Regions from separate parts of the Homo sapiens genome. Here region 1 is linked to region 2. Evidence: fine-mapped expression QTL. Tissue or cell type: macrophages after interferon gamma. Region 2 holds a variant in brackets; the other region holds the start of a gene. All regions are shown on one strand. Distances are from middle to middle.

Region 1 (4,401 bases), 480 kb before region 2:
TATATTTTTCTAGGGGAAAAGATTTTTTAGAAGAGAGGGCAAAATTATTTCCCTTAAAAACTCTTTATATGGATGTCATCACGTGAAAAGACATATATAAAAGTGAAAGTTTAAGTCATGGGGCAAATCAGGTTATTTCTGAGTGTGAAAAGAAGGGCTACTAATAATTTCGCTGGGCAGTGGCATAAAATAGGCTTGTTCCGGGTAAACTGATCCATACGGTTTTCCAGTGAATAAGCCAAATTCAGTTTTGGGCGCTAGTATGGTTTCAGCAAGAATGGAATACAGGATCCTCAGGAAAAATAAAAAGGGCCCTTAAACTCAGCCCTGTTAAACTTCATCAAGATTCTATTCTGGCATGAAAACTACAGTGGTTAATGACAGGTCTAAAATAATACTTACTCAGTGCATGGTACACAGGTTTATGTAATCCCTGAAGTCTTATAGATGCCATAGCAGCAAGTTTGCCAGGTGGCTGCATTTTCCCATCTAAGAGATACCATATTCTAGCAAAAGTGGCCCATTGCTTGGGGGGGAAAAAAAAAAAAAAGAAGAGGAAAAAATAAAGATAATTATCATTAAAATGGAAATACAGTAATTAAATTTATTATCATATATCATCACGTTTCTACAATTAATGTCAACAATTTCTTTGAAAAATAACTCTATTGCTAAAGAATTTTTGTTTTCATTTCTATTTCTGGAAAAGGGTTGTTTTTTCTAATCATTCTGCAAAGACAAACACAGTAATTATTCCTTCCTGGTTTCCTGTTAGCAATATGACTTACGTTTTGTTATAAATATCCCAAAGATATATTTCCCTTTACGGTATGACTTTTTTTTTTTTTTTTGTATAACACATAATAGAATCTGGAGGGGCAATGAGAAGCTTGTAAGAAAGTAGAAGCTGTTTATGAAGGTCTTCAAAAACATTTAGAGATTATTAGGTACATTATATTGAAAGCTGAGTGGCCAACTGGAAACTGAAGACGATTCAGGAGTTCAATTCCTGGGGAGAGTTAAATAGAACAATGTAGTTGGGAAAGTACAGATGGGTGATGTGGAATAAATTTCAACTTTAAAAAGTTGCCTGAAATAGGTATCTTTAGGTTGCCTCAGGAATAGAGCATTGTTTTTACAGTCGTCATCAATGTATTCAAATTCTTAGAAAATTCTAGGCCAGAAAGATCTCCACCAGATGCTTTCTCTATGCATATACACAAGAGGCTAAACAATGCTGGAAAAATAGAACGAGGCTAGCTGGTCTTATTTTAAATTTACTTATCACAACCTCAAACTAGTCTACATATAAGAAAAAGGCCAGTTTTTGTCCCCATCCATTGTAGACTAATAGTTTGATACTTAGAAAAAAAAAATTTTTAATGAAAAAAATACAAATGCTGGGCGATGTCAGATTGCTGAAAAAGGTTTTAAAATTTTTATTTTACTTCCTGTATTTATCTCATCACAGACAGGCAACAAACAGCCCAAGGAAGGAACCATACTTGGAGCGGCACTGAGTTGAGAGTCATCTTAGACCGATATAACCCAAACTAACTCCTATTCTTCCACCTGAAACCTGGTTCAATCTCAGCCTTCCCTATCTCAGTTGATGACACACCCTCCAGTTGGACAAACCAAAAAACCTTGGGGTAATCCTTGTTTCTTCTTTTGCTGTTGGCCTATACTCAATATTCAGGAAGTCCTACTGGCTCCACCTTCAAACAAAACCTGACCACTTTCAACACACTCCATAGTATTTCTAGCGTGGCCTCTGCACCATCACGTCTCGCCTGGATTACTGTAACACCCTCCAAACATATTCTTTGCTTCTGTCCTCTACTAACCCCTATTTCTGAACAGTCTATTCTCGACCCAGCAGCCAGAGTGCTCCTTTTGACACCAGGTCAGATCCTGTTACTCCGTGGATCAAAACCCTCCAAAAGGTCCCCATTTTACTCAGTCAAAAAACAAATTATTGCAAGGGCCTACAATGCCCTATGTGATCCACCTTATTACCTCTCCGATCTGCTCTAATCCTCTTCCCCCCGCCCCCCCAAGAAAGACATGAAAAGGGCAGATTGAAAAGAAGAGGGGACGAGTAACAGACGAACGACATTAAGTGCTTGCCAGACTGACGACCCTCTTGTGCTTTCCCAAGTCACCTCTTGGCCGAGGGTCTCGGCTTCCCTGCCGCCCCAGCTTCACTACTTAATCTGCCGGAACCAACGCTCTCCTTCTGCCAGTATAATGAACCCCATCAAGCCATAAGAGTCCGAGCTCACCTGGGGCGCCCTAGAGAAACTCGACATATTCCTCTACTAGCAGGACCGTACGTCCTTCTCCTAGTAGCCACGCCGGGTCACTCAGCCTTACTGGCCCGGCGGGAAACGCTAACACCCAAGCAGGACAGTTCCTAGCCCGTCGAGCACTTGTCGGCTTCTCCCTCTTCCTCGAGTTTCCTCCAGTCTTCTCCACGGCAGCAATTTCGTCATGAAAGGAGCATATAATGCAGTTATTTAGGGAATAACTCCCAAAAATATCTCGCTTGGTGGAAAAACTGCGGAAAACCGACGGAGGACATAATTTCCAGCCGACCTAAACGAAGGGAACCGGAAATGCGTCATAGCGCGCGTCTGTTTGGATGTGGAAGCCGAGACCTAAAGTTGGGGGGTGATCTCTGAGGAGATGGATCGGTACCTGCTGCTGGTGATCTGGGGGGAAGGAAAATTCCCGTCGGCGGCCAGTAGGGAGGCAGAACATGGGCCAGAGGTGTCGTCGGGTGAGGGTACTGAGAATCAGCCGGGTAAGCGCTGGGATGAGAAAGAGCGGGAACGGCTTGTGGAGAGGGGAAGAAGTTTGAGTTTTGTGATCAAGTTCTGCTGAAGAGGGATCAATATGTAGTTGTCCCACGAAGCTGGGACTCTATCTGGGATAGAGTTAATGAGGGCTGCAAAAATAGCATCTTCATGGAAAAACAGGGACAAATTTGTGGATGCAAGATTCCAGCCCTTAGAAGTTCTTGGCATAGTAAATGTTTAACTTAATAAATTTTCTATGCCTTAGTAATGGAATTTCCTGCTTTTTGGAAATATATGCATTTATTATTTCTGCTCCTGTGTTTCACATGCAAATAATACGGAAAGGAGCAAGATGGACAAAGATCTTGCTGTCCTACAATTTACATCTAATGGGAGGAGACATCCCACATATAACCTAAGTTTTAAAAACAAATGATGAATTTTAAATGATTTTAATTGTTTGCGATTGCACTGCTTTTTGGTGCACCCGTCTAGATTCAATATTGCATTTTATGTGTTCATTTGTTTCGATCAAACAGGCATTTTGAGGAGTAAATGTATGTGGTTGTGTATAAGGTATTGTCACAGAATTTCCCTTCTCTTTAAAATTATTCTTTTGAGGGGAATTTTGCATTCGTGCTAACTGACTGGCATGTACAGATCGGGAGCCTTTTCTATTTTCTCTGATTGCTTTAGATTTTCTGTATCAAAACTTGAACAGATCTTGAGCAGCGTTTAGTACTTTTATGTACAACCTACTGGTCTTGAGAGTCTCTGATGGTGAAATTGGACTAAGTTAGATTATGTAAATCTAGAGCCCTTTGAGTTAGTCTATCTTTTCTTTTTCAGACTTCACAGCAGCAAATGTTTATCACCTCTTGAAAAGAAGCATTAGTGCTTCAATTAATCCAGAAGATAGTACTTTCCCTGGTAAGTATAATAAACTCCTCTTTTCTCTGGCACAGCATTTGTACTGGAAATTAACTTAATTAATTTGGACCCTAAGGAGTACAAGGAAATACTTCTTGACTGTGTACAAGGCACTGAGTTACAGAGATAACTAAGGGAGTACAAAACTGAAAAATAAATTACCCCTTTCTTCTAGATGCTTGAATATAGTAAAGTTATGAAAATTATTCTAGGTTCTCAGCTTGAATTTTGCTCCTTTTATGAAATTTTCTTGCCTATCTTAGTTCTGTATAACTAAGGGGAGTGTGGCTTTATGAGGATGATTTTATCATGAGTAAAAATATGTAAAGCTCCCACACGGATTTCCTTACCATTTATTTATTTATTTATTTCTGTTCTTAATTACCTATTTCTGTTCTGATTCTCTTAAAAGTACTTAATAATTACTAAACACGATGAGCTTTTCTCAGTTCTTATCTGCTTTGACTTTTTGAAGTATTTCGCTTTTTTGACCAACCGTACTTTGTAAAAATCTTTCCTCCTTTAGCTTCTACTGGCATTATACAAATGCATTTACTGACTTTGATAGTTATCTTTTCTTTTATTCCTGCTTCTTGTCCTTTACTGGAGAATGTCCTTTAAACGTTCTGAAAATGGAGATGCCAAAACAGACCAATACCTAAAAACTGAA
Region 2 (4,401 bases):
TGACATGTGAATTTTTATAGCATTTTACCCCCAGTAGAACTTCTTTCAAAGTTGGAGCCAATCCTCGTAAACCCTGTCATTCTTTATCAACTAAGTTGACGTAATACGCTAAATCTTGTCTTGTCATTTCAGCAGCGTTTGTATCATCTTTACCAGGAGTAGATTGCATCCCAAGAAACCAACTTTCTTTGCTCATCCATAAAAAGTAACTTCTCATCCATTCAAGCTTTCTCATGAGACTGTAGCAATTTGGTCACACCTTCAGGCTTCACTTCTAGTTCTCTTGTTACTTCCATCCCATCTGCAGTTATTCCCTTCAATTAAGTCTCAAGCTCTTCAAAGTCATCCATGAGGATTGGAATCAACTTTCTTAAAACTCTGGTTTATGTTGATATTTTGACCTCCTTCCATGAATCACCAATGTTCTTAATGGCATCTAAAATGGTGAATCCTTTCCAAAAGTTTTTCAATTTACTTATCCCAGACCCATCAGAGAAATTACTATTTATGGCAGCTATTGCCTTACAAAATGTATTTCTTAAATAATAAAACTTGAAAGTTGAAATTAACCCCTTGATTCATAGGCCGCAGAATGGACGTTGTGTTAGCAGGCATGATAACAACATTTATCCACTTATACATCTCTATCAGAGCTGTTGGTTGACCAGGTGCATTGTCAATGAGCAGCCATATTTTTAAAAGAATCTTTTTTCCAAGAAGTAAGTCTTGACAGTGGACTTAAAATATTCAGTAAATCATGCTGTAAATAGATGTGAGGTCATCCATTGTGTTTAAATAAAATTTAAAACAATAAAATCTCATTGAGCACAGGCAGAGCAGATTTCTTAAGGCCCTTAGGATTTTCAGAATGGTAAATGAACACTTCAGTTTAAAATCACCAGTTGCCTTAGCTCCTAACCAGAGAGTCAGCCTGTGCTTTGAAGCTTCAAAGCCAGGCACTGACTTCTCTCTAGCTATGATAGTCCTTGATGGCATCTTCTTCCAAATTAAGACTGTTTTGTCTACACTGAAAATTTGTTTAGAGTAGTCACCTTTATCAATGATCTTAACTAGACCTTCTGTATAACTTGCTGAGTCTTCTGCATCAGCTTTTGCTGCTTCACCTTGTACTTTTATGTTATAGAGAAAGTTTCTTTCCTTAAACCTCATGAATCAACCTCTGGTAGCTTCCAAATTTTCTTCTGCAGCTTCTTCACCTCTTTCAGCCTTCACAGAATTGAAGATTAGGGCCTTTGTCTGGCTTAAGCTTTGGCTTAAGGGAATGTTGTGTCTAGTTTGATCTATCCAGATCTCCAAAGCTTTCTGCATATGCTGTTTCTTATCATTATTCATATCACTTTCTTATCATTAATGTGTTCAATGGAATAACATTTTTAATTTCCTTTGCATTAACAATGTTAATTTTCTTTGCATTAGCAGTGTTGCTAACTGACTGGTGCAAGAGAATGAGTTTTGGCCTATCTGTTTTTGGCATAACTTCCTCACTAAAAATCATTTGTAGCTTTTGATTTAAAGTGGGAGATGTACAACTATTCCCTTCACTTGGACACTTAGAAGCCATTGTAGGGTTATTAATTGGCTTAATTTTAATATCGTTGTATCTCAGGCAATAAAGAAGCCCAAGGAGACAGGGAGAGATGGGAGAACGGTCAGTCAGTGGAGCAGTCACAATATACATAACGTTTATCAATTAAGTTCACAGTTTTATATGGGAGTGGTTCATGGTACCCCCAAACAGTTATAATAGTAACATCAAAGATCACTGATCACAGGTCACCATAACAGATATAATAATAATGAAAACATCTGAAATATTGCAAGAATTACCCAAATGTGACACAGAAACATGAAGTGACCACATGCTGTTGGAGAAATGGTGCTGATAGACTTGCTTGAAGCAGAGCTGCCACAAATCTCCCGTTTGTAAAAAAAAAAAAAAAAAAAAAATGCAGTACACGATCAAGTGAATCACAATAAAATGAGATATGCATGTACTTTCCTGGGAGAGTAACTGGGTTTGTGGCAGACATTTAAGGATTTATAGACTTTTTAAAGATAGAGGATGCTTGGACCATGAGGCTTTAGGGAGAGAAGCAGGACACTAAAGTGGATTAAGTTTCATAAAATAGAGTCCCATTGGGTGCTCTGGTTAATTTCATGTAGGATTTGCTTTGCATTTTTAGAAGAGGACTGTTACAGATTTGACATTGTGTGTGGGGTCTGGGGGACTCTGAGGCAAGGCTGCATTCCCATGAAGTATAGATTTAAAAACAGGATTGCTGGGGAGGAGAGAAATTTTAATTCAGTCAATGCATTAATAGATTGAGGGTGGTAAGATTTCTGGTCATCTTAGGGAGGCCAGACGAAAGCTGAAATCTTATGAGTAATACTGAGCCATATTTTAAGAGGAAGACATATACGATAGAAAGTAACCAAGAAAACAAAACCGTGTTATAGAAAAGA[T/C]GGCTGAAGGACCTGGGAATATTTACCCAGGCTCCAGAAAGAAAGCTCAAGGTGACATGATTACCAGCTTTTAATATTCAAAAGCTTGTCACTTGGAAGAGGGATTGCACTTACTCAGAAAGGCCTCAAGCCAGACCTAGGATCACTAGGCGGGAGTTACAGAAAGACAACTTTTAATTCACTGCATAGAGTAGGCAATTCAAATAGAGATGTCTGAGGATGGGATAAACTGAGTTCATGGACTGGTTCAAAAAAGGAATTCAAGCATACATTGGCAGGAATATTATAGAAGTGTGGTGGTGCATGTAGTAGTTAAGACATAGAGATAAAACTGGGTTCCAATTTTAATTCTTCCACTTACTAAATATGGGACCTATGGCAAGTTGCTTAATTTTTCTGCTTCAATTTCATAATTTTTAAAATGCAGTTAATATCCACTGCAGAAATGTTGGCAATAATTAAAACAATTAACTTTTGTCCTTAGTGTCTAAAGAGAGACAGGTAGGGGTGTGTGTGTGTGTGTGTGTGTGTTGCACATACATGCAACATTTCTGGTTTCTCCTAACCTGAAGTGTTATGATTCCAAAGGCTTTGGGAAAGAAAAGTTTTAAAAAACTAGCTATCCTTCTGCATTTCTTAGATAGTCCCCAGTATTTTGATATGTCCTTAAAGCCTTTGAAAGTGCTCCAGTTTCTTTTTTTTTTTTTTGAGATGGAGTCAGTCTCAACTCTGTTGCCCAGGCTGGAGTGCAGTGCATGATTAAGCTCACTACAACTTCCACCTCCCAGATTCAAGTAATTCTCCTGCCTCAGCCTTCTGAGTAACTGGGATTACATGTACATGCCACCACACCCAGCTAATTTTTGTAATTTTAGTAGAGACCAGGTTTTGGTATGTTGGCCAGGCTGGTCTCGAACTCCAGACCTCATGTGACCCGTCCACCTCAGCTTCCCATAGTGCTGGGATTACAGGCGTGAGCCACCACACTCGCCATGTTCCAGTTTCTTATAAAATTGTTTTAATATGGTATTTCCCCATCAAAAATTCAGTTTAAAGCAGATAGAAAATATTTGATGCTCATCTTAATGCTACCCAGAACTGAGAAACGCCTCTCAATTTGCTTGTACAGAATGAGGTATGAGGATTTTTTTTACAGAGGAGTGGAAAAGACAGAGAACGATGAGCAATGACAATTCAGTTCCCTAGTTAACAGCATGATTTGATTGTGTTTACATATGAGACTTGTGTTTGGGGACCTCTGAGCCTTGTGCACGTTTATCAAATTGCAAACAGCACCACTTATGTGCTGCCTATGATAAAGCACTACCACACAGCCGAATAGCTCTCCCAGCAGAAGATGATTATTTCCCAAGATAAAAGCTGACTACCTGACCTACCTGATGCCAAAGCAATTCATCAATTCAGTGACAAAGAAAAAAAAATTAGAACAACCACTCCTTTGGTGTAATGCAGAGGAAACAATCGGTTGATTGACTGTGACTGAATTTTGGCTGCAAACACAGCCAAAGCAAACCTAAAACAGTATGAGATATTCCTCAGAATTTCCATTATAATGTAATTGTTTCTGCTCAACTTTGTTTTCCAATTTGCTCCCACATTAACTGTAGGGGTAGAAGTTAAGTGGTCAATCATCATTAAGGGAACTAGATTTGTTTGCTAACAAAAATTGTGGTATACATTTTGAATTTGATGTCACTGGGTAGTTTTTCAATGCAAACTTACGTGGCGGGGAACTATTTTGTTTGTAACGGAAGAAATACTATCCTAATATCAATACACTGCATAGAAGACATCTCGAAATCTAAGGGCAACCACTGTTTGAGTTTTGTTTTTCCAGCTACAAGCAAGATGAAGTGGAATAACCCTGGGCTTTGAAGTCAGAAGGAACTCATTCAT

Alleles and levels. Alleles are on the strand shown, and positions count from the first base shown. SD is a standard deviation of normalised expression in the study named.
For the expression in macrophages after interferon gamma of the gene that starts at base 2,368 in region 1, allele T in region 2 goes with a higher level than allele C (large effect, 1.1 SD a copy in Alasoo 2018).

Evidence for each region. PIP is the estimated chance that this variant, and not a neighbour inherited with it, causes the effect. A credible set is the group of variants that fine-mapping cannot tell apart.
Region 1: MRPL13 starts here. The variant in region 2 is the best candidate, but not a certain one, in a credible set for the expression of MRPL13 in macrophages after interferon gamma (Alasoo 2018, PIP 0.62).

The regions. Positions count from the first base shown.
Region 1 is chr8:120,442,783-120,447,183 of GRCh38, forward strand. It overlaps MRPL13 (mitochondrial ribosomal protein L13), which reads right to left and starts at 2,368. Exons shown (of 7, transcript NM_014078.6): 1 at 2,286-2,368; 2 at 403-526. The coding sequence starts at 2,312. MTBP (MDM2 binding protein) reads left to right here and starts at 2,637. Exons shown (of 22, transcript NM_022045.5): 1 at 2,637-2,806; 2 at 3,651-3,731. The coding sequence starts at 2,689. RefSeq lists an enhancer at 2,096-2,275.
Region 2 is chr8:120,920,752-120,925,152 of GRCh38, forward strand. No RefSeq gene overlaps it. Among named protein-coding and RNA genes, the nearest start is that of SNTB1, 110 kb to the left of the region's middle. The variant T/C (reference allele first, on the strand shown) is at 2,485.